4 linked regions of the Homo sapiens genome follow. The protein of the gene in region 3 interacts with the protein of the main gene of each other region in a pairwise test. Each region holds a gene or a part of one and is shown on either strand. Other genes may lie near its edges.

Region 1 (7,662 bases), on a different chromosome or scaffold from region 3:
CCAGCCTGGGCCTTGGTTCACCTGCCTGTAACACAGAGCTCATCTCTCTTCCAGAGCTGGTCCTTACTCCCTGCCATGGGGCTCTGCCACTTTGCCACCCTGGCACTGATCCTGCTGGTGCTGCTGGAGGCTCTGGCCCAGGCGGACACACAGAAGATGGTGGAAGCCCAGCGTGGGGTCGGCCCTAGAGCCTGCTACTCCATCTGGCTCCTCCTGGCGCCTACACCCCCTCTCAGCCACTGTCTTCAGTCTCCACAGGTGGGAGTGGGCTCCCCTCTCAGCCAAGCCCTCAGGCTTCTTGGCCAGGGACCCCAAGTTCCCTGGGAAAGTGGGGAGGGGAGGAGAGAGGAAGGGGGTTCCAGATATTTGTGATAGCTGTTGGCCACAGCTGTCTCCAGCAGCTCCCCTCAGGGCTCAGAGAGCCCCAGGAGGGGCTGAGCCTTAGCTCCCTGGAGCTCAGACCTCAGAGACCCAGTGCAGGTATGGCTGCAGGCATGGGTGTGCCCTGTTCCCACCATCTGGGAGTGCAAGCGGGGAGTAGTATCAAGGTATGTGTGTATGACAAAGGTCTGTGGATGACAGAGAAGATTTCTAGTAGGCCCAATTGAAGGTCCTAGCTGACCACAGTTAGCATGGGGAGAGACCTTAAAGACCATCTCTCTGGCCTCAGGGGACAGTGGGGCCTGGGTGTCCCTGCCTTTTGGGTTGGGGGAGGAGCTTGGCAGAGGGTGGGAGTGGCCCTGGACACACTGCTTCTGCCTGCAGCCCAGGGCTGTCTGAAGACCTGCTCTACACCTGTGTCTGTGTGTGGGCCTGTGCTGCTTCCCTCAGCCTGAGTCTTCTAGGTCTTTATCCTGGACCTGTCCCATCGGCCTTGGCCCCTAACTGAGGGCCCCGGACCTGGGTCCTGCTGTTGGCAATGCCACCAGTTTACATGTGATTTTTGGCTAGCCTCTTCACTGTCCTCCTCCACAGAACATCCTTCCAACTTGAACTTCCTGCCCTTCTTCTATAATACCCTTGAAGGCCAAGGGAGAGGGTCTCACTCCAGTTGCTTAGGCTGGAGTGCAATGGCATGGTCAAGGATTAGGGCTCACTGCAGCCTTGACTTCCTGGGCTCAGGTGATTCTCCCACCTCAGCTTCCCGAGTAGGAGGGACTATAAGTGTGTGCCACCACAACCAGCTAATGTTTTTTTTGGAGACGGAGTTTCGTTCTTGTTGCCAAGGCTGGAGTGCAATGGCGTGATCTCAGCTCACTACAACCCCCACCTCCCGGGTTCAAATGATTCTCCTGCCTCAGGCTCCCGAGTAGCTGGGATTACAGGCATGCGCCACCACGCCCAGCTAATTTTGTATTTTTAGTAGAGGCAGGTTTTCTCCATGTTAGTCAGGCTGGTCTCGAACTCCCGACCTCAGGTGATCCGCCCACCTCGGCCTCCCAAAGTGCTAGGATTACAGGCATGAGCCACCGCGACCAGCCCAACTCACTAATTTTTTGTATTTTTAGTAGAGACAGGGTCTGGCTATATTGCCTAGACTGGTCTTGAACCCCTGGGCTCAAGCAATCCTCCCACCTCAGCCTCCCAAAGTGTCGGGATTATAGGCATTAGCCACTGCATCCGGCCAAGGGACCTTTTAAAATGGTTTATTTGATCTTCCTTCTCCCACTATCTCTTTTTTTCTTTTTGTTTTTTCTTTTTTTCTTTTTGAGACGGAGTCTCGCCCTGTCGCCCAGGCTGGAGTGCAGTGGCGCGATCTCGGCTCACTGCAAGCTCTGCCTCCCGGGTTCACGCCATTCTCCTGCCTCAGCCTCCTGAGTAGCTGGGACTACAGGCATCCACCACCACGCCCGGCTAGCCTGTTAGCCAGGATGGTCTCGATCTCCTGACCTCATGACCCACCCTCCTCGGTTTCCCAAAGTGCTGGGATTATAGGCTTCAGCCACCGCGCCCGGCCCCTTCTCCCACTATCAACATACATGTACACAATATGCCACAGTCAGACCTGGGCTGAGCTGCCTTGATTCTTAGCAGTGCTGGGACAGAGGCCTGGGCCTGGAGGGAAAGGTGCCTGACTGTGCTTGGCACTGGCCATGCCATGGAACCAGTGGACAAGTTGGGAGTGGCAGGGGAGGCTGGAAGAGGGGAGTAGACAGCATGCTTTATAATTAAACTCAAATCAAAAAATAGAAACAGCATCAAGTGTGCGGAGACAGGCGGCTGAAAGCCAGCAGCACGAACTGCCCGTCAGAGAAGTGCACAGCCTGGGCCAGATACTCCCACAGGTGGGTGAGTGCTCCTAATTTGGGGGGGGTAGGATGTGGTCCCTGAGCATGCTGGGTAATGAGGGCCAGGACACTTGTGCCTGTGTGGGGAGGGGTGGGGTTTGGGTTGGGTAGAGAACCGACTGGGTCAGAGATGAAGGCGCAGACAAGGTATAGTAGAGTCAGAGAGACCTGGGTTTGAATCCTGACTCCCACATCAATTGGCTATGTGACTCTGGGTATGTTGCTTAACCTCTCTGAGTCTCGGTTTCCTCATCTGTAAAATGGGGATGATAATATTACCTGCTCCATAAAGGCACTGTGAGGATTCAATGAGAAAATGTGAGCACCTAGCTCTGTCTGGCACATAGTACATCCTTGATGAGTGCTAAATATAACAATTATTGCTGGACAGAGAAAGAAATATCAAGAAATACAGAGATAGAGAAGAAATCTCACTGTCCCGTAGGGAAGTTACCCTCCACATAGGATATGGCTGGGGCTGGAAAGGGTAAGAGTAATTATAGTAGTGATAATAATAGTAAGACGTGCCATTTATTGGGCATCTACCATAAGACAGACCCTGTGGGAGGTGCTTTACATTAATTATTACATGGAATTCTCACAGCAGCCCCACTGAAGAAACTGGCTTGGTGAAGACAAGACCACATAGCTGCAAGTACCAGACCTGAGATTTCTACCCAGGTCTGCCCTCCCCAAGACCCTCAGGCTGAGCACAGAGACCCACAGCTGTTCCCCACTGGCAGCCACACGCCACCCTTCTGCAGGCCTTCTCCCCACACTCCTCACTGGTCCTGCCCTGAGATCTCCAGCCCCACATGGCCTGTGGCCACACTTCTGTCTGGCCTCCCTGGAGTGGAGTCAGAAAGGATGGGCAGGAAGAAAGTCCAGGGGACTATCTGAAACTGCAGCTGAGAGGTGGATGGCAAACAGCTGCCCCCTGCCCCAAGGAAGCCTGTGCCTCTGCCCGATGTCTTGGGCACACAGAGCAGCGTCATGGGAGGCTGCAAAGGCACATGAGCTTCCTGGGGGAGGATGGGAGACAGAGGCAAACGGGGGAGTGACCCAGGGAGGAGAGATGCAAACACAGAAAAGAAGTGCATGGACTTGCAAACAGCAGCAGCACAGGAGCAGCCAGGAAAAGCCCTGCCTACAGAGGCAGCTGCTCTGCTGAGCGGGGGAGGCAGGAAGGGGGCGAGGAGGAGCACGGGATCAGGGAGAGAAGGAAGACTGCAGGGAGTGGGAGGGGAGCTCGGCCGGGCCCTGGCCCTGCTGGACGTTGGGCCTGTGCTTCACCCAGCTGGGGACAAGGAGACATGGAATGTAGTGTCAGGCAGGGCCCTCCGAAGACCAAGTCTCAGGTGTCAGAAACCGGCGGAGCTGCCACAACCACCGACTTCCCCTCCTTGGGAGGGACTGGGGCTTAAAGGACGAGTCCCTGGGGGGGTGGCCGGGCCTGACTCTGACTGATGGGATGGGCTGGGTCCCAGTGGGTTAGAGTGGACAGGTGGGGCAACACCCTGAGCATCGGGAGCAAGGCATTAGGTGGAGCCTGACCAGGCATAGCGCTAAGTCCAGGGGAGAGCCCCGTTCTTCAGACCTGGGCCTAGGTCCCCTCGGAGGCAGAGGCATGCACTGTGGCCTACCAGCCCCCAAATCCTTGACCCCTCTGGAGCCTCCTGGGGGTGGAGCCTGGCTGCCTGCTCCCTGGCAAGGCTGGGCTGTGACACACCCATTGGCCACCAGGGGGCAGCCTCACCCCATGCCAAGCTCCGCAGGCCTGAGCCCGGAGCCTGTCCCACTTCCCAAAGCCCCATCTCCTGCCTGGGGTGGTGCAGCCCCACCTGATGGCTCCAGACCAGTGTGGCTGTTGGACTCCTCTGGGTCCTGGGGGCTTCCCCAACTCCACCACACTACACTGCCCTCTGCCCTGCAGTGACCGCATATCCAGACACTCCTCTCTCATTCTCGGGTCAGACCCCCAGAGCATCCTGAAAATTAAGTCCAGCATCCCTAGCATGGGAAGATAAACTGTGGTCCAGATGGGAGCAAAGACTTGCTCGTGGCCACAGAATGAGTTATGGCAGAGTGCTGGGGGAGCCAGGCTCTCCTCCCTGCCTCAGAAGTTCTCTTCCCACCTCTTCAGGTAGACTCCCATCTTCATGGAGGTTTATGGAACCAACGGTCTTCAATCCCAAACAGATACCAAGCAGAGAGGAGGCCTGGGGGTTTAGAGGGACCGGAGGGCCCACTGCAGTCCACAAGGCCTCAGTCGGCTCTCAGGCCCCACCCCCCATGGGCGCCCCAGCCAGCACCTGGAATTCTAGCCGCTTCACAGTGTTTGTGTTCTGGGCAGAACCTGCCCAGCCCTGTTCCGCTCAGGCAGAGTCCTGCCCCTGCACCCACTCCCCCATTCCCGGCCCCAGGCCATGCCCCAGGTAGGTGGCAGGCCACTCAGCCACCTGGAGAGGTCACAGTGGGGGATGAGGAGGACAGCTTGGTCTTCACTTCCGCCTTGCCCGACAGCCTCCCACTGGGTGAGCCTGGCCAAGCCGGCAGCCTCCTGGGTGCCTGTTTCTTTTTCTGGTCCTGGCACTGCCTACCAAAGGGAAAAGATGTTCTTCCCAGTATGCACCTTCCCTAGTCACTGGTCCAGGGGATCAGGGGCAGTTAGCAAAGACAGGACCCCCTCTCCAACACGGCACCAGGCCCATATTCTGGTGCCGCTGAAAATCCAGCTCCGCAGGGTCCCTGACTCCTTCAGCCAGCAGATGCCTGAAACAAGCTACCTGACCCGGGTGGGGCCTGACATCCAGTGCTGGCCTGAGTCGTGGGGGTAAGGAGGAAAACCCAGGGCCTGTAGGCAGGTGTGTGGCTCAGCAGTACCAGGCTCCCTTGAGGAAGCAGATGGGTTAGTGACCACTCTCTGGAGGCCCCAAAGATGGTAACTGAAAGGCTTGGGGATGGACTAAAACCCCAGCCTTGCTACTCATGAGCCGTATGGCTTTGGGCATCACTTTTAAAACATTCTGAGCTTCAGCTTCCTCCTGGGTAAAATAGGAACAGATATCCCACGAGTGAGACATCAGGCTTTTTGTTGTTGTTGAGATGGACTCTCGCTCTGTTGCCCAGGCTGGAGTGCAGTGGTGTGACCTCAGCTCACTGCAACCTCTGCCTCACAGGTTCAAAAGGTTCTCCTGCCTCAGCCTCCCTAGTAGCTGGGACTACAGGAGTGGACCACCACACCTGGCTAATTTTTGTATTTTTGGTAGAGACAGGATTTTGCCTCATTGGCCAGGCTGGTCTCGAACTCCTGACCTCAGTTGATCTGCCTGCCTCAGCCTCCCAAAGTGCTGGGATTACAAGTGTGAGCCACCGTGCCCAGCCAGAGGCATCAGGCTTATAAGAGGCATTAGCTCATTCCATGCGGAGTTGCTAACAAATACCAGTTCACAGTCCTGGCCTCTTACCTGGAGATAGGCTCTGATCTCCAAGCCCCTGAAAGTGGGAGGGGACGGGGGTCTGAGGATGAGTACTGGAAGTAGCAGGTGAGGGGGCTTGAGATGAGCTGCTTAGGTTGGTGGGGGCTTCCTGGGTGCCCTGAGAGCCACAGCCATCTGGGGCTTTCATCCCTACAAAGTCCAAGCTGATTTAGGGATGAGATCTGCACTGACTAGTGCCACAAACAGGGAACTCCAAGGGCCCCTTGGCCAAAGCTTCATACATCTGCAGCTCAGCAGAGGGCAGGAGAGAGGTCTGCCCAGCTCCATAGCAGTGACAAAGGCTTGATTCCCTTGTTCCCTGGGGAAGGGTTCTAGGCCTCAGCCCCAGCTGAGCTTGTTAATACCTCATGTGAAATAGATGAAGCCCTTCCTGCAGCATCCCCGTGGCACCTAGGCACTGCACCATGGGCTTCCCCATCAGCTGGATCCACCCTCTGGGAGCCTGCCTCCAGCCACTGCGGTGTCCACTCTGTTCCAGGATGGACTCACTGCAGAAGCAGGACCTCCGGAGGCCCAAGATCCATGGGGCAGTCCAGGCATCTCCCTACCAGCCGCCCACATTGGCTTCGCTGCAGCGCTTGCTGTGGGTCCGTCAGGCTGCCACACTGAACCATATCGATGAGGTCTGGCCCAGCCTCTTCCTGGGAGATGCGTGAGTAAGACCCACGTTAGGAGTGGGGATGGCGGAAGGGTGTGAGGTTCACACGGGAATGGGGGCATGAGCCTCTCTCAGAGCCCTCTAGGGCAGAGGTGGCACGCTTGCCTCCCACCGTCTCTTTCCCTATGTTTCTTTCCTTTTATATTATTACTGCTTTTAACTGTGGAACTAGAATGCACATAAGAAAAGTGCACAGGGCCGGGTGCGGTGGCTCACGCCTGTAATCCCAGCACTTTGGGAGGCCAAGACAGGTGGATCACTTGAGGTCAGAAGTTCGAGACCAGCCTGGCCAACATGGTGAAACCTCATCTCTACTAAAAATACAAAAAATTAGCCAGGTGTGGTGGTGGACGCCTGCAATCACAGCTACTCAGGAGGCTGAGGCAGGAGAATCACTTGAATCCAGGAGGCAGAGGTTGCAGTGAGCCGAGATCGTGCCACTGCACTCCAGCCTGGACAATAAGAGCGAAACTCTGTCTCAAAGAAAGAAAAAAAAAAGGAAAAAGGAAATGTGCACAGAGCACGTATGAACAGCTTCATCACCCAGTGAAGAAAAAGGATATTACTTGTCTCCCAGAAGCCCCTACTGAATCCTTCTCATTATAACTTTTCTATTCTCTGTGGTTAATCACTATCTGTTGAATTAATTATTTTCTGTAAAGTTTTACCACCTATATATCTAAACAGTGTAGTTAGTTTCACCTGTTGTTTAAAATGATATGAGTGGAATCATGTTGTGTGTGTTTTGTGCCTGGGATCATTTGCTCAAATTTGTGAGTCACCCACATTGTTATGTGTACCTGAAGTTCATTCATGTTTTCACTGCTGGAGTCATCATATGATTATGCCACAGTTTATCCATTTTACTGAATATGGACATTTGAATTGTTTCCACTTTTTGACTATTATGAACAGTGATCCTAGTAATATTTCATTTTAAAATTTTTATTTATTTATTTAGAGACAAGGTCTCTCTCTGTTGCCTAGGCTGGAATGCAGGGATTATCATCATTCACTGCAACCTCAAATTCCTAGGCTCAGCAATTCTCCCACCTCAGCCTCTCAAGTAGCTGGGAATACAGGTTTGCACAACCACACCTAGCTAATTTTTCTTTTTTTTTTTTTTTTTGAGGCGGGGTCTCACTGTGCCACCCAGGCTGGAGTATAGTAGTGCAATCTCCACTCACTGCAGCCTCAACCTCCCAGGCTCAGGTGA
Region 2 (3,374 bases), on a different chromosome or scaffold from region 3:
GCAGGCACCCAGCACTGGGAGAGTGGAGACAGGCGCTGGGCTGCAGAGAAGCTGAGCTGGGAATCAATTTCCCTGGGGGCTGGCCCCAGCTGTCTCATTGACTTGCTGTGTGACTTTGCATGAGGAAAAATGATTCCTTTGTGCCTCAGTTTTCCCATCCATAATTAGGATGATTTTGCAGCTCTTCCACCTGCTGTATGTGCTGTGACCTCAAGCCAGGGAGGGGATGGGAGGGTGAAGGTAGCATTTTGCCCTGATGCCCACCTACCACTCCAGGCTTTTAACCAGACAATGCCATTCATTGACCTGCAACCCATATTATTGACCCAATCTTCCTCAAAGAAAGGCTTCAGCCATTTCCAAATCTGTTCACTTTGCCCTATGAATTGCTTGGGGTCCAGGCTGGCCCCTGGGGGTCAGGAGACCTGGTCCAGGCTCTGCTTTGCCAGTAAGTAGCTGTTCTTACCCCTCCCTGGGTCTCAGTTTCTTCCTTTGTTTAATAGGTGGTTTAAGCAAGGTCTGAGCATCCCTCAAGTCCTGCTGTGGACCACACAAAGGCAAGGAGCTGACCAGGAGGTGTCAGTTCCCTGAGAGACAGGGCCAAAGGCAGTGTACCCTTGAGGTGTGTGTGTGAGGGGCAAATGATGTCTCCTGTATTGGGATCTGCAGGGCATGGGAGTGGGCTCAGTCTCTGACCCAGCTCAGGGACAAATCCTCTTCCTGAGACCCCCGGGGGCTGATGGTGCTTGCGTGGGTGAGCAGCAGCTAAGCTGTGCTCTTCCACTCCATCCTGGAGGGCTGCCTCCTCAGGGCCCTGATGAAGTTATCTGGGCAGGGTGGGGCATGCTGATTTCATGAAATTACTGGGAGATACAATACATGGAGAAGGCTGGGAGAGCTGTCACTGGGCTCTCTCTCCAGAGATGCTCCCTGTACCAATGGCTGGGGGAAGAGGAACAGGACGAGAGAGGCAAAGGGCTGTGGGGAGCCTGGGACCGTGTTGGACTGGGGCAGTTCTTTACCCTCTCTGCACCCTTTCTGTAAGGGAAATTTATGCAGAGAGAGGCAAAGAAAATCCTGGAAGCCCTCACCATAAGAGAAGTGATGCCGAGAACTGGCAGCTGGGGGTGTGGGTTTTGGAGGCAGCCTGCTGGGGCTTGGATTCTGGCTCCTTGCTTACCAGCTGAGTGACCTTGGGCAAGTTGCCTAGCCTCTCTGTGCCTTGGTTTGCTCAACTATAAATTGAATATGATAATAGTAATCTATTTAATTGGGTGGTTGTAAAAATTAAATGAGTGCATCCACATACAGCCCTCGACACAGTGCTGTGAAGTTCTGTGGAGTAGAAAGTGCTATATAAATAGTAGCTGTGGTGGCGCTGGAGGAACCTCCTTGAGCTGTGGAGAGAAATTTCGACCAGTGTAATGCGGGGGCTGAGGTTCAAGCTCACCCACTAACTATGGGAATGGACTCCAATTAGGATTCCAATCTGGAGATCCTGACATTAGGGACCAGCCCCTGATCACAGGGTAGGTAAATCTTGCAGATCAGGCCAAAAAGGCCCCTAGAATTGTCGGGTCTTGGATCACTGCTGCCTCCTGAGGCAGGTTAGGGTAGGGTGGGTCTAGCTAGCAGGCTCATCTGTCGTCTGGCCTCGCTGACCACTCTTGTTTCCCCCACAGTCTCACTACCGGCCATTCTACGTCAACAAAGGCAACGGGATTGGGTCCAACGAAGCCCCATGAGCTCCTGGCGGAAGGAACGAGGCGCCACACCCCTGCTCTTCCTCCTGACCCTGCTGCTCTTGCCTTCTAAGCTACTGTGCTTGTCTGGGTGGGAGGGAGCCTGGTCCTGCACCTGCCCTCTGCAGCCCTCTGCCAGCCTCTTGGGGGCAGTTCCGGCCTCTCCGACTTCCCCACTGGCCACACTCCATTCAGACTCCTTTCCTGCCTTGTGACCTCAGATGGTCACCATCATTCCTGTGCTCAGAGGCCAACCCATCACAGGGGTGAGATAGGTTGGGGCCTGCCCTAACCCGCCAGCCTCCTCCTCTCGGGCTGGATCTGGGGGCTAGCAGTGAGTACCCGCATGGTATCAGCCTGCCTCTCCCGCCCACGCCCTGCTGTCTCCAGGCCTATAGACGTTTCTCTCCAAGGCCCTATCCCCCAATGTTGTCAGCAGATGCCTGGACAGCACAGCCACCCATCTCCCATTCACATGGCCCACCTCCTGCTTCCCAGAGGACTGGCCCTACGTGCTCTCTCTCGTCCTACCTATCAATGCCCAGCATGGCAGAACCTGCAGCCCTTGGCCACTGCAGATGGAAACCTCTCAGTGTCTTGACATCACCCTACCCAGGCGGTGGGTCTCCACCACAGCCACTTTGAGTCTGTGGTCCCTGGAGGGTGGCTTCTCCTGACTGGCAGGATGACCTTAGCCAAGATATTCCTCTGTTCCCTCTGCTGAGATAAAGAATTCCCTTAACATGATATAATCCACCCATGCAAATAGCTACTGGCCCAGCTACCATTTACCATTTGCCTACAGAATTTCATTCAGTCTACACTTTGGCATTCTCTCTGGCGATGGAGTGTGGCTGGGCTGACCGCAAAAGGTGCCTTACACACTGCCCCCACCCTCAGCCGTTGCCCCATCAGAGGCTGCCTCCTCCTTCTGATTACCCCCCATGTTGCATATCAGGGTGCTCAAGGATTGGAGAGGAGACAAAACCAGGAGCAGCACAGTGGGGACATCTCCCGTCTCAACAGCCCCAGGCCTATGGGGGCTCTGGAAGGATGGGCCAGCTTGCAGGGGTTGGGGAGGGAGACATCCAGCTTGGGCTTTCCCCTTTGGAATAAACCATTGGTCTGTCACTTCTCTTGTATTGAATGACCATTTCCCTGAGGGTCCCCAGAGGAACAGGCTGCAGTTCTTCTGAATGCACTTTTTCCCTCTGATGAAGGCACGGTCATCTTCCTGCTCTCCTCTCAGAAACGTGGCTCCTTTGAAACTCCCTTGACCTCCCTCACCCTGTCTGGGACACAGGGGGTGCAGTGCAGGAACCTGGGCCTCAGGGAGGCACGCCTTGGCTAACAATGAACACAGGGAGAATGACAGTGGGGTGTGGGCCTGGGGATATGCTCAATACCTTCTGCCATGCTCAGACCTTCTGGCCGGCCCACCCTAGAGTTCCCAGGGGGAGAAGGGCCCAGAAGTGGCTGGGAGCCAAGCACTCTGGTGCTCAGACGCAGGCTGGAGTGGAAGTCCACTGGAGGCTTCAGACCTGAGGGCCTTCTCAGTGCACAGAGGGCCTTCTGGGAAGGAGAGCTCCCCTTTGAGGCTGGCAGGAGGGTCAGGCTCCTGAAGACAGCATC
Region 3 (6,906 bases):
CCGGGCTGCACGACAGCCACATGCCCCATTCAGGTAGGGTGGGCGCCCAGCCCCACTTCCCCATGGCAGGCGGCGGTCCCTGGGGTGCCCTCGCCTGCCTGGAGCAGTGGGGTGGGGGCTGGTGGAAGTTGCGGGCAGGAAGGCTGGCTGCTGGGTGTCTTAGGAGGAGGAAGCTGGTTCCTGGCCTGCCCAGTTGCGTGTAGATTCTGCAGAAGTGGCCTCCCTTTGGGGCAGTGTGGAAAAGGGGAGAAGAGAGGCCTCATTCTCGTGCAGGAGCCTCCGGCCATCCTGATGCTGCCCAGCCAGGTGGCCTTGTCTGAGCGAGAAGCTCTGGGATGGACGCTGACCCGGCTCTGAGCCGCACACGCCACACACACGTGTGCTCCCAGGGTGGGCCATGGGCACAGTGGAGGGTGGTGGCTGTGTTTGTCTCTGGATTTCTGGGGTCCCAAAGGTCCCTCTCTGCTGTCACCTCTCTGAGTGTCCTTGGGGAGAGTTTTCCAATCTCTGTAGGTGAAACCATGTTTGGAACCCTGGAAAGCATGTGGAGCTGGGGCCCCCAGAGAGGCCTCCTCCCCTGGTGCCAGGGTGCCCACTTGCAGCAGCTGGGAGGCTGGCCTCCCTGAGAAACCACCAGAAGCAGGCAGCCTCAGCTGGACCTGTGGGCCTGTCATAGGGAGTGTGGCAGAGGGCCTTCCATCTCTCCCCAGGGTTGTGTCTCGCAAGTCCCTGGGCTGAAGTGTGGGAGGAAGCAATGTCCAAGAGTTGGGGAGGACCCCGGCCAGCCAGGGGAAGAGGCCCTCTGTGCCCCATCCATGTACAGCCTCCTGCCCTGCCTGGGTGTGATGGCTGTCCCATGGGGGAGTGGGAGGCCCACCAGAGGGATGGCTTGGATGGGGTCAGAGCCCCCGAGGGAGGGAGTGCACAGTCACGTGTGGCCCCAGGAGTGCCTGGAGCAGCTCCCGCCTGAGCTGAGGGTGCCCTGTCCCAAGTGGGACACTCACCCACAGGGCCCCTCCTCACTCCCGTCCCTTCCCCGTCCATCATGGCTCGGGGGTGTCACTCTTGTCCCCACTGCCTGGATTTTCTTTCAGGGAGCCCCAGACTCTGGTAAATGCTCTGCTTCCTCCTGCCTGGATACTTCTAATGACCCTGACGACCTGGACGTGCTCAGAACCCGGCATGCCAGGCACACCCGGAAGCGGAGGCGGCTGGTGTGAGCAGCAGGTGAGTCCTGAGTGGGGAGGCCACTGCCCTACAACCCAGGGGACAGAGTGGTGTCCAGATGGCAGGGGGCCTTGGCCTCTGCTCGGCTCTTTGGCGCTCACAGCAGGTGTGCTGGGTTAGGTGGGCAGGTCCAGGGTCATGGAGGCCCTCCAGGGGGAGAAGCATTTAACCCACATCCTTCCTGCTGGCCACCCATGCCTCGGGCCTTGGCACCACTGTGCCCCTGACCATAGGCTCATTCCCTGCCTTTGGGGTCTGGGCTCCTCCCTGGCCGCTGTGCTCTGGTGGTGCCCTGTTCCCGTGCATTGCTGCGTCGTCTCCCAGCTTGTAAAACGATCACCATCCCCAACCGCAGCCACCAGGCTGGCTCTTCACTGCTGGAGCCCTGGTGCCCTGGCCTGGCCCTTGGCGCATGTGGGTCAGGTTTACCAAGCAGACTGGGCGTGGCCGGCGCTGGGGTGGTCTTGGTTCCTGTTTGTCTGTCCCAGCCCTGCTTGGGGTCTGGCTGGGGTCAAGGGCACCCCCCACCTGGTGTTCCTGTGTTCCAGGACAAGCACTTTCTCAGAAGCCCGTGGCCCTGCTGACGAGAGACAGCCCACCCCCAGCCTGCAAGAGAGGCAGCCAGAGGCCAGGTATCTGCTGGCCGCTGACTGACCAGGTCCGCAGTGAACAGAGGCGGGCCTGCCGACTGACTGTGTGGCATGGAGCATGGCTGTTCCCCAAGTGCACACCTGAACACTTGGAGGAATAAAGTTCTGTTTTTAATTGTGGAGCTGGACACAGGCTGTTGTGGTTTTGTTGTCCTGAGGTACCGGGCAGTGTACAGGGACCCCCCACCTGGCTGGGGTCAGGCTGCTGCCTAGTGGCTGAGCCACCCTAGTGCAGGCAGTTCGGGAACAAGCAGGGTGCTGGGGGCCCAGAGCTGGGGTCCTGGAAGGCCTCCCGTACCCCGGCTGCCCTCCTGTCAGAGAAGCAGGCTTTCTTTCGCCCATTTCCTGGAAAGCATCTGTGGCTTTGTCCTTCAGGCTAGCCGGCACCCTCCCCAGATGGCTGCCAGCCCTCGCGCTGCCCTGGCTGACCCAGGGGGTTCCCTGGAACAGATGACCTGGCTACCCCGACACGGCGGCAGCCCCCACCCTCCACTGTTCCTTTTGCATGGGCCTTTATTGGCATAAGACTAGCCCCCATCTTCTCCGTCTGTCCCCTAGCTCCCTTTCCTTTGTCTCTGTGGCAGCAGCGCCCCCAGGCCCTTGGCTATCTGGGCTTCGATCCTTCACTGGAGCCACTGTGGGGCCTCAGCCCTGGGCACCTGGCAGACGGGACGGTCCCATGGCCGACCTCACTCCTGAGTATGTGTTGCTGTGCCTGGTTCTCTAGTCTGGTGCCTAGTCTGGGGGCCACTCTGATCTGTGGGTTATTTAGCGGTATATTATTTAATTTCCAAATATTTAGAGATTTTGCCGATATCTGTTACCGATTTTTAGCTTCCGATATGGTTAGAGAACATGGTATGTGTGTTCACTCCTAAGGACACACACCACAGGGAAGTCACTAAGGTCCGCGTTTTAAACGCTGGGGAAACACTGGGTCATGAGGGCCTGGTGCCAGCTCCGGTTCGCTCCCTGGCAGGGCCCAGGATGGCCCCGGCCTGCACACTCGCTCATGTTGATGGTGAGGGGTCCAGCAGGGGCACGGCCCCCTGGAATGTGGCATTCCCGAGAGCCCAGGAGGACCCCTAACTGTCCGCTCCTTAATGTGTGATGTCAGACGTTGTCCGCACAGAGGCCTGAGGGCTGGAGGCTGAGAACGGTTAGGCAAGCTCCACACCAGCTTCCTTGCCTTCCAGCCTGGCGGCCCCTTCTCGAACCTGTTGGGTGGCAACTCAGTTCAACCAGCTTTACCGGGTGAGGCGGGGCCTGGGGGTTCCCAAGCCTGCAGGGATGAGGCTCTGGCAGCCCACACGCTGAAGTGCACAGTTCAGGGCAGACTCTGCTGTCCGTTGTCCCTGGATGGGGGCCGAGCTGTGCCCTGCTGTCACCGGCTCTTCTGAAGCTGGTTTGGGGGACCCCGAGAGTGGCCTCAGTCCTCACATGCATCCTGGTGGAGAGCAGGGATGCCTCATGATGGGGATAACGAGGATAACGACACTTCTGGAAGGGACGTTTCTCCCCCGTGTGCAGCTGGGTGGTGGCCGATGCCATGGCCCCTGGCAGGCTGCTGTGGCCTCCTGGGCTCCATAAGGTGGGCTGCAGCCCTTCTGTGACCAAGGCGTGTGCTGGCCATGCCGTGTGGCTGTGTGCCCCCCTGCACATGCCCTGCCCCGCTGTCCTGAGATGCTGGCGAGGGCGAGGGTGTTCGCACAGAGCAAAGCATGCCTTACTGAAGAAGTCTCCAGAAGCCTGTGACCAGGTCAAAGTGGCTGGGTGCGGGCTGGCCTTGTCCAGCCCCCTGGGGGTCTCTGCTGTCTCTTCTACTTGCCAGGTGCCAGGGCTGGGCCTCTGGGGCATCCCCAGGACCCCCAGCCCCCGGCCAGGCTGGGAGGGCTGGGAGCAGCTTTCCTCTGGAGGGCAGCGGACTTCCACTTCCGTCTGCCTCTTGGGGCCTCCTGGGCTGGGCGAATCAGAAAGCAGGTCACCAGGGACTGTCCCCCTGTGGGAGGACTGGCGGGACTGTGGAGTTAAGCAGAACCCATCAGGAAGTGCACAGGCGTCCGGCGTGCTCCTCCCTCCCTGCAGCCCCGGGCAGCATCTCCCAGAGGCTCCGCGGCCCAGGCTCCTGGTGTGTCTGCAGTGCAGGTGGCTCCTGGAAGACCCTCAGGTGGGTGGGTCTGGTGCTTTCTGAAAGGTGGCCAGGAAGGTTGGCGTTGGCCTAGTTCAGGATCCTGGCACTGATCCCCCAGAGCAGCCTGAGGCTTCCCACAGGCAGCCAGGCAGCCTCCGCCATGCGGCCCCGTCCCTTTCACGGCCCCTGGGCGGAGATGTGTTCATTTCAGTGGAATTACGGTGGCAGATGGGACCCTGCATTTCAAGCTGGGGAAGCAGGAAAGGGGCCCAGTGTTCCCAGGACTGTCTACCGTGTGGCCAGTGTTTTTATTCAGTCCCTTGTCTGTCAAAACTGTCCTGAATGGGGTGACAAAGTGCAGCGGGAAGTTGAGAAATGCCTCAAAAGACCAAGCCTGGGGCAACTATGTCTCCAGGAGCAGTGACCCAGCTCCTCTGGGCTGGAAACCAGCGTTTCCCAGCGGGGCTGGAGGCTGTCTGAGGACCACGTGGCTGCTCCCAGCCTTGCCGCAGTCCCAGTCTCAGAGGGAGTGGCTTTCAGCGGCTGAGGCCCCCACCATGCTGGCAGAAAGGGACAGCAGTGGCTGGTCCCAACATGGGTAGTTCTGTTGCAGCCACTGGGATGGGGGCCGGGCCTCATCTGGGGCAGGAGAAGAGTCCAGGGATTCACTGGTGCCCGGCACCTCAACCTGGAGAAAACACCGCAGCAGCACTCCTGGCCAGCCAAGGGCAACACTGACAGCCCCTCCCAGGGTTGCGGGGCCGGCAGGGGGTGACAGAGACACGCTCCTGTGGGCAGCTCTTCCCGGCCAGTGCAGCGACCCCGCAGCTGCAGCAGGGCTGGGTGGCCACTCTTGCATCATCAGCAGCCGGCCGTGGAGGAGGGAGGGCACAGCCAGGGATGTGAGCAGGCGTCGGTCAGGGGAATGAGGAAGTCCCACAAGAACCGGCTCCCCCAGCTGCTGTGCTGGTGGGAGGGCCACTGGCCAACCTGCTCTCACCCAGCTTGGGCTGGCCATAGTGCCAGGCAGTTGCCCTCAGCTCCTCTGCCCATTCCAGCCATGGAGGTGGCTAACCTTGCAGGCTCCAGGGCGTGATGGGAGTGTCCAGGAGGCAGAGGCCAGAGGGGGTCATGCTGTAGGGGGAGTTCCTCTCTCAGACCCCATCTGTGCCTCCCCCGCTGCGTATCTGGGTGACATGGATGCCAACGGGCAGGAGCAAGGGCTGGGAAAGGCTGCGGAGGGGCCCTCGGCTGGTCTGGTGGGGAGCGGGGTCACTGTGTCTCTGCTGCCTCCCTGGGGGATCCAGCGTGGGGATGGGACATGGAGCTGGGCACCTCTCCTGGATGCCCCTGGGCTGATCCCCCTCGATGCCCTGACGAGAGCCCTGGCCCAGCGTCTGAGAAGGAGTGGGAGCTGGGCCCGGGTGGGGGCAGGAGCCGGCATCGCTCTCAGCACTGCCCCACACTCCCCAGCCTGCCTGCTGAGGCCATGTCGGACTACGAGAACGATGACGAGTGCTGGAGCGTCCTGGAGGGCTTCCGGGTGACGCTCACCTCGGTCATCGACCCCTCACGCATCACACCTTACCTGCGGCAGTGCAAGGTCCTGAACCCCGATGATGAGGAGCAGGTGCTCAGCGACCCCAACCTGGTCATCCGCAAACGGAAAGTGGGTCAGTGTTGCCCCGCGGGCCCCAGGCCCCAAACCCAACCACAGAGTCAGCTCGGAGGTGGCTGCACGCTCTGCCACCCTGACCCTCAACCCCAGGAGAGCCCCGCCTGGCTTTGCCCCTGGCCTCTGACTGAGGCCCAACCTCAACCCTGGCACGTGGCCCGTCCCCCAGCCTCTCCTGCCGGCTTGGTGCTGCCAAGAGGGGCAGCGGGGCTCCCACCGCAGCGGGGGCTCCTGAGACAGCCAAGGGGCGGGTGGGCAGCACTTGGTCCCCAGCCTAGTACCAAGACCCGCAGGGTACCTCATCCAAGACCCAGACCACGGCACACCTCATCTGCATGCCAGCCTCCACCTGTCCCTGCCCCCAGGCCCACCCACCCCAGCCCTCTGCCTCGCCTGTGCCCCGCCCCCAGTTAGGCCTCTCTGGCCCGCAGGTGTGCTCCTGGACATCCTGCAGCGGACCGGCCACAAGGGCTACGTGGCCTTCCTCGAGAGCCTGGAGCTCTACTACCCGCAGCTGTACAAGAAGGTCACAGGCAAGGAGCCGGCCCGCGTCTTCTCCATGATCATCGGTGAGTGACGGGGGAGGCGGGGCCGACAGGGGAGGCGCTGGCGGGGAGCGGGCAGTGGTGTTGGGTCCTCTGCCTGGCCCCCATCCCTAGGAGCCCTGAGCTCCTGCCACAGCGCAGGGCGTGATGGAGCTGGGCCACCGGGGAACACGGCACCATCTGACACTGGCCTGGCCCACAGACGCGTCCGGGGAGTCAGGCCTGACTCAGCTGCTGATGACTGAGGTCATGAAGCTGCAGAAGAAGGTGCAGGACCTGACCGCGCTGCTGAGCTCCAAAGATGACTTCATCAAGGAGCTGCGGGTGAAGGACAGCCTGCTGCGCAAGCACCAGGAGCGTGTGCAGAGGCTCAAGGAGGAGTGCGAGGCCGGCAGCCGCGAGCTCAAGCGCTGCAAGGAGGAGAACTACGACCTGGCCATGCGCCTGGCGCACCAGAGTGAGGAGAAGGGCGCCGCGCTCATGCGGAACCGTGACCTGCAGCTGGAGGTGCGCCCGCTGCCCCCGGGAAACCAGGCCACCCTCGCCTGGCCTGGCGGGGTCTGCAGGCCGGGGCGGTCGGGGGTGGCCCCACGGGTCTGCGGTCACCGCCTGGAGGGGACAGCCAGGCTCACTGGACCTTCTGCAGATTGACCAGCTCAAGCACAGCCTCATGAAGGC
Region 4 (6,002 bases), 850 kb from region 3:
CAGGACAGGAGGTGTGCAGGAATTAGATATTTCCTGGGAAACTAGAAAAACATCCCAGCTGAGGTTGGGAGGTGAATCACCAGTGGGCAGGGCGTGGTCCTGGCTGTCTGGGCTCTCCTGTCCCAACCTTCCACTCCCTGAAACCTGCAGCACCTGCTGCACCCACCACCCTCTTGTCGACACGCTCCTTCTCTTGGAGGCCTTTCCTGGGGTCCCCCCAGTTCCATGCGCTGTATCCTCCTGCTGTCCGACCCATGGACTGACCCCAGCTCACAGTCTCAGTCTCGGCCCCAGGGAGCGCAGGTCAGCTCAAATCCAGACCTGGCTCAGCTAGGGCTGTGGACACGCTGCAAGCCCTCGTGCAGTCTCTGGGCAGACCCGGGACTTGCAGGCCAGGGGAAAGTGTGGACGTCATGAGGCAGTGGCATCCCTGTCCTTGCAGTGTCCACAGTGACTGTGTGTGTGTGTTCTCGGGTCCACATAAAGGGGCAGATGCCCTGTGTCCAGCTACAACCCCCTCCCAAAGGAGCCTGCAGCAAAGAAGAATTGCTGGGAGGAAGATCACCCTGCTTTATTGCCTGGGCCTTAAGGTAATCAGGGGTGTCCCTCTCCAGCCAGGACCTGGGATTCCGTTTCAGGAGCTCGGGCTGAACGGCCACCTTCCTGGTGGGTCTGAGCCCCAGTGCCTGGTGTGAAGGGGCAGACGCCCATGACAACAGCCACCCCGCATGTCCCGGCATGTCCCGGCACTGTGTGAGCCACATTTGCTGAAGTCTGGGTCCTGGCCCTGGCAGGGTGGGCTGGGCTAGGAGATGACACAGCAGCAGCAGCTGTGGCAGCGGCAGAAGGGGGGGCAGTGGCAGCAGTGGCAGCAGGGGCAGCAGCAGCAGTGGTGGGCGATGTCATCCCCGCGCCCCGCGGGCGGAGGGCCAGCGTAGGTCAGTCCGGCCTGGCGCTGACTGCTGCTGTAGGGGTTGCCAGGCTGCTGCCAGGCCTGCTGGTTCTGGATGGGGGCAGCCCCCTGGTTACCCTTGGCGCCCTTGGGCCCTGGGACCTCGGTCGGCTGCAAGAGGTGGGTTGGCTCTGGGGCACAGGGCCCCACTGGCAGGGGCTGCATCTCCGAGGATGAGGAACAGGTGGAAGCCACCTCTAACTGCTGCCCCAGGTCAGGCCGCAGGTGAGCCCGGGGGATGCTGATGTGGGCATATGGGTTCTTGACGACCATCTCTTGGGGGTCCATGGTCCAGCCTGCAGGGGTGGGCAGAGAAGACAGACATGAACTCAGTGGAGTGGGATGGCTGCCCACGAGCCTGCGGCCCAGGAAAGCCCCCACCAGGAGCAGCGTGCCTCGTCCAAGCTCAGCATCCCCAAGGCATCAGTGCCGGGGTGCCATCACCTCCAAATGTGTGTGCAAGGCTAGTGTCATGGGTGTGAGCCAAGTGTGAGCAAGCAGCAAGGGCCGGTGTCTCCCAGCTGCCACCCCTGCCAGGGATCCTCCCCCTCCCCTGGTGGCATTGGTCCTGGGATGGAGCTGGGAATGGGGTCGGGGAGGCTGAGAGATGGGAGAGAAGGGGGCTGACCCTGCAGTGCCCCTGAGTTCAGGGCAGTCCCGGCGGCCAAGGGCTTACCTGTGGTGGCAACACGGCAGTCTGTCCTCTCGGTCTTCTGAGCTCTAGGTCCCAGTGCCTGAGTTGAGCGACTGGCAGCCGCCTTTTCCCTCCTTGGGAGGGGCGGGGCCATGGGGCGGGGCTCAGAGATGGGGTTCCCAAGATCCCAAGAGGCCCCAGCAACTGGAGCACGACAGCTGGCCCAGCCCTCGTCCTCAGGTGGGTGGCAGCCCAGGCCTGGGCTCTGAGGGGCACTGCCAAACCAGTGACTCAGCCCCTCACATCCGGGGCATGGCCTGGGCCCTAAAGGGCATCTGCAGCTTGCCTGAGAGGAGGGCAGGAGGTGAGCCTGAGGTCACGGCTCTGGAAAGGAAGTGGGGTGAGGCCCTCAGATTCCCGGGCCTGCAGTCCCCAGCCATTGCTCACACACCTCAAAGCCCCGGCGAGGCAGGGCTTCTAAGCCTCTGAGCCTCTTCTTAGCAGAGACCAAGATGCTTGAGAGCCATTGGCTCTTGGAGGCTTTCTGCTTCTTTTCTGAGATGGAGTCTTGCTCTGTTGCCCAGGCTGGAGTGCAGCTGCGCGATCTCGGCTCACTGCAACCTCTGCCTCCCGGGTTCAAGCGATTCTCCTGCTTCAGCCTCCCGAGTAGCTGGGATTACAGGCAACCACCACCACGCCTGGCTAATTTTTTGTATTTTTAGTAGAAACAGGGTTTCACCATGTTGGCCAGACTGGTCTCCAACTCCTGACCTCAGGTGATCCGCCTGCCTTGGCCTCCCAAAATGCTGGGATTACAGGCGTGAGCCACCGCGCCCGGCCGATTTTTGAGACAGGGTCTCACTCTGCCATCCAGGCTGGGGTGCAGTGGCATGATCTGGCTCACTGCGGCCTCAACCTCCTGGGCTCTAGTGATCCTCCCACCTCAGCCTCTTGAGTAGCTGGAAGGACTACAGGTGCACCACCACGCCGGCTAATTCTTTATAGAGATGTAGGTCTCACTATGTTGCCTAGGCTCATCTCAAACTCCTGGACTGAAGTGATCCGCCTGCCTCCACCTCCCAAAGTGCTGGATTCCAGGCGTGAGCCAGCGTGCCCAGTGGCTTTTCTGCTTTTTTCACTGATAAAAAATGTTTGATTTGCACGTTTTGTCACAGGTCTTATCTTACAATCAGTGACACGGGCTTTAGACACTACTGACATTTTTAGCTCATTTCTCAAACTGCAGTTACCCTCTGGCTGGCGGGCGTGGGGGCCACACGCGCCCCCCCAGCGTCCCCACCTTGGGCCCCCCGCCTCCAGCCGAACCCAGGCTCCATCTGCACCGGCGCAGGCAGGGGTGCAGCGGGCACTGGCGAGTGCCGCGGGGACGACCCACGGCAGTGGGGCCCTTGGGGCCCAGGGGAGCACCAGGAAGGGCGGGTTCCAGTCAGACGTGGCCTGTGTAGGGCCAGTCAGACCGGTCGGGACATGAGTTCAGGCAACCCGGCCCCGATTTGGGGAGAACTGGGTGCTCCTGGGGACCCAAAACTTGAGAGGCCGGCGACGGAAGTCCACTGCGCAGGCGCCGGAAGTCCCGCCCACCTCCCTGCCTGCCACTTGAGTGGCGCCTATGGCGCATGCGCAAACAAGGCAGGAACCGGCCGTGGAAATATTATTGCCCAGAAGCCCACGCGCTCCGGGGTTTCCCGAAAGACCCGGTTCGGATGTGACCAATACTCGGCTTGGGGTTCTCCAGCTCTGAATGGCGGGTCTGAAAAGGCCTGGCCTGGGGGGCGGGGCCTCGTGGCGGGGGCGGGATCTCATCCCCTACGGGGTGGGGTCTCGCTGAGGGGGCGGGGCCTGCGGCCTGGTGCTTCCTCGGGCGCACGCCGGGTCGGTGAGCAGAGTCTGCGGCGGAGCTGGGCTCCCGGCCCTCCCCAGGCCCAGGCTGCCTCAGTTGCCCCACCATCTTGCCAGGGCCCCGTAAGGACCCCTCCAGCAGCGCCCCTGTCACCCGCACACCTCTCCCTATTGCTCTTCTGAGTGACACTCGCCCGAGGCCCCACAGAGGGGCCAAGCCAGACCCTATGCGCAGGGCTGCTCCTCCAGCCTGTTTTGCCCACGCGAGCTCCCGCACCAGCGGCACCGTCCCCTCTGGGCTCAGCACTCTGCAGGCCCTGGGGCTCTGCCTAGAGCAGGTGCGGTCTGGCCAGTCCAGCGGAGAGAGGAGCTGAAGGAGGCCAGGATGTCCAGGGCCAGGTGCGGGGCCAGAGCTGGTCACAGCGTGGCAGCGGAGGCCCTCGAAGCCCTGGTCCCCTGCCTCACGGTGACCAGCAAGCCCGAGGGCTCCACAGGCAGAAGGCGGACCCAGGAGGGCAGGGAAGCCCCGGGTGAGGAAGCGGAGAGGCCCGGGCCTGCGCGCTGGAGTGCCAGGGGCCACCCTGTCCGGGCAGGTGCGGTCCTCAGGGCCGCCTCCACCCCGCACTGGGCTGCCAGCCTGTCCTTCGCGCACTCCCACCGGACCCGTCCGTCCACCGGCCTCGGCCTTCTGATCCGCTCCGCCCGCCCCGCTCTTGCCCCTTAGAGTCACAGCGATCTATCTGAGCTACGGCACCGGGCACAGGCGGAGCTGGAGGACTCGGGGCCTTCCCATGGGGCGGGGGGCCGGGGACGGGGGAAGGCACCGGTGGGCCCTGGAACCAGCTCCCCTGGGATCCTCCGCGCAGGTCCCCTCCCTCTCACTCCAGAGTCCTGAGGCCTCCTACTGTGAGGGAGGAGAACAGCCGGATTCTCCTCCTGAATCTGGGGGGGCGGGGGCTTGACCAGGACCCAGGATCAGCCTGGAGAGAACTGGGGGCGACGCGGGGGTCCTGCCCCCCACGCAGTCCGCGGGCGAGAGCGACGCCGGGAGCGGACCGAGGGGCGGCCGGGAGGCTGGCCCCGCCCCGCGGACCCCGCGCGGGTCCCCAGACGGGGGGTGGCGCTGCGGGCGCGGGCGGGCGCCGCGCGCACTGCGGTCCCCGCGCCTCCGCCGCAGAGCGCGCCACGCTCCGCACGCACCTGCCGCCGTCGCCGCCGTGCCGAAACCCGCGCCCCGCGCCCCACGCCCGCGCCCGCGCCCCTCGGTGCCGCCCGGGCCCCGCCATCGCCTGAGGTCGCTGCGGCCGCCGCCGGAGCCGCCGGAGCCCCCCGAGCTGCCGGGCCGAGGCGCGGGCGCCGCGTCCGGGCCTGCCTTTGAGACAACCTCTGCGGCGGCGGCGCGCGGCCGGGACGCCAGGCTGGGGCAGGTGAGCGCAGGGGGCGGGGGCCGGGGGCGGACTCAGCGCCCCTCCCCACGCGACGGGGGTCGGCCCTCGGGAAGGTGCGTCTGGCCTTGGAGGCGGGGACCGGGGAGGGGGTTGGGTTCTGAGGCCCGCGGAGGTCGGGATCCCACGGCTGAGGTCAGGGTCAGAGGTCGGGCGCCCGGTCCTTTGTGCAGGGCGAGGGCTAGGGTGGGGGTGGCCGGGGCACTGCCCTCATGCCGTCTCTCACCTGCAGCTCAGGCCTGGCCCAGGCCTCGCCTCTGCTCCTGCCGCGGAGCCTGCCGCCCCGGTCCTCCTGCAGCCAGCGCTTCGGCTAGCTGCCTTCCCTGGGCGCCCTGTCCTGGAGCCATGGGGCCCACCCAGCCCCTGCCTGCCCCGATGTCCCGGCCCGCGGCCTGCTGACCTCGGCTGCAGGGGGAGCCCCCCCCGCGCCCCCTCGCCAGCCTCAGCAGCCAGAGACCCTGGGTGAGACCCTGGGCCAGACCCCCAGCCCAGGGCAGCCTCCCACCCCTCCCTGCCCCCGCCTGCCTCCCCCTCCCCCACCCCTTCCTCCTCCTCCCAGGACTGGACCAGAGAAGCCACTGTGGCCACTGGGGGGGGCCCTGCACCCCCAACTCTCGCCGGCTGTCCCTAGGAGTCCACGGGCCGTCCGGGGCCCCCCCCAGGCCTGGCGGGACCAGGATGCTGCCCTGTCACCTGCCCCCCAGCCCCACACAACGCCCCCACCCACCCGAACATCCAGTCTGACTGGAGACAGCCGGATGCCCTCTGACCCCGGGCCCGAGGCGGGCAGTGGCTGGCCGGGCCTCCTCATGTCCTGCCTGAAGGGTCCCCATGTCATCCTCAAGATGGAGGCCATGAAGATTGTCCACCCTGAAAAGTTCCCTGAGCTACCGGCTGCCCCCTGCTTCCCGCCTGCTCCCCGGCCCACCCCAACTCTGGCACCCAAGCGTGCCTGGCCCTCAGACACAGAGATCATTGTCAACCAGGCCTGTGGGGGGGACATGCCTGCCTTGGAAGGGGCACCCCATACCCCGCCACTGCCACGGCGGCCCCGTAAGGGAAGCTCGGAGCTGGGCTTTCCCCGCGTGGCCCCAGAGGATGAGGTCATTGT

Evidence for each region.
Region 1: the proteins of CARD9 (region 3) and DUSP13B interact in binary tests that used the Homo sapiens proteins (3 or more experiments, as listed by UniProt).
Region 2: the proteins of CARD9 (region 3) and TRIM29 interact in binary tests that used the Homo sapiens proteins (3 or more experiments, as listed by UniProt).
Region 4: the proteins of CARD9 (region 3) and CYSRT1 interact in binary tests that used the Homo sapiens proteins (3 or more experiments, as listed by UniProt).

What each region holds. Positions count from the first base shown.
Region 1 is NC_000010.11:75,096,490-75,104,151, reverse strand, and holds the start of DUSP13B (dual specificity protein phosphatase 13B), read left to right. Parts: upstream 1-4,639; 5' UTR 4,640-4,714; coding exon 4,715-5,121; intron 5,122-6,266; coding exon 6,267-6,440; intron 6,441-7,662. UniProt on the Homo sapiens protein: Dual specificity phosphatase that dephosphorylates MAPK8/JNK and MAPK14/p38, but not MAPK1/ERK2, in vitro. Exhibits intrinsic phosphatase activity towards both phospho-seryl/threonyl and -tyrosyl residues, with similar specific activities in vitro.
Region 2 is NC_000011.10:120,110,785-120,114,158, reverse strand, and holds the end of TRIM29 (tripartite motif-containing protein 29), read left to right. Parts: intron 1-1,682; coding exon 1,683-1,745; 3' UTR 1,746-2,873; downstream 2,874-3,374.
Region 3 is NC_000009.12:136,370,670-136,377,575, reverse strand, and holds the start of CARD9 (caspase recruitment domain-containing protein 9), read left to right. Parts: upstream 1-3,906; 5' UTR 3,907-4,044; intron 4,045-5,481; 5' UTR 5,482-5,497; coding exon 5,498-5,681; intron 5,682-6,114; coding exon 6,115-6,252; intron 6,253-6,430; coding exon 6,431-6,735; intron 6,736-6,874; coding exon 6,875-6,906. Other genes in the region: SNAPC4 (snRNA-activating protein complex subunit 4), read left to right, coding at 1-33, 1,095-1,220. UniProt on the Homo sapiens protein: Adapter protein that plays a key role in innate immune response against fungi by forming signaling complexes downstream of C-type lectin receptors.
Region 4 is NC_000009.12:137,220,860-137,226,861, reverse strand, and holds CYSRT1 (cysteine-rich tail protein 1), read right to left. Parts: upstream 1,689-6,002; 5' UTR 1,629-1,688; intron 1,249-1,628; 5' UTR 1,241-1,248; coding exon 806-1,240; 3' UTR 547-805; downstream 1-546. Other genes in the region: RNF208 (RING finger protein 208), read left to right, coding at 5,650-6,002. UniProt on the Homo sapiens protein: Component of the stratum corneum that may contribute to epidermal antimicrobial host defenses.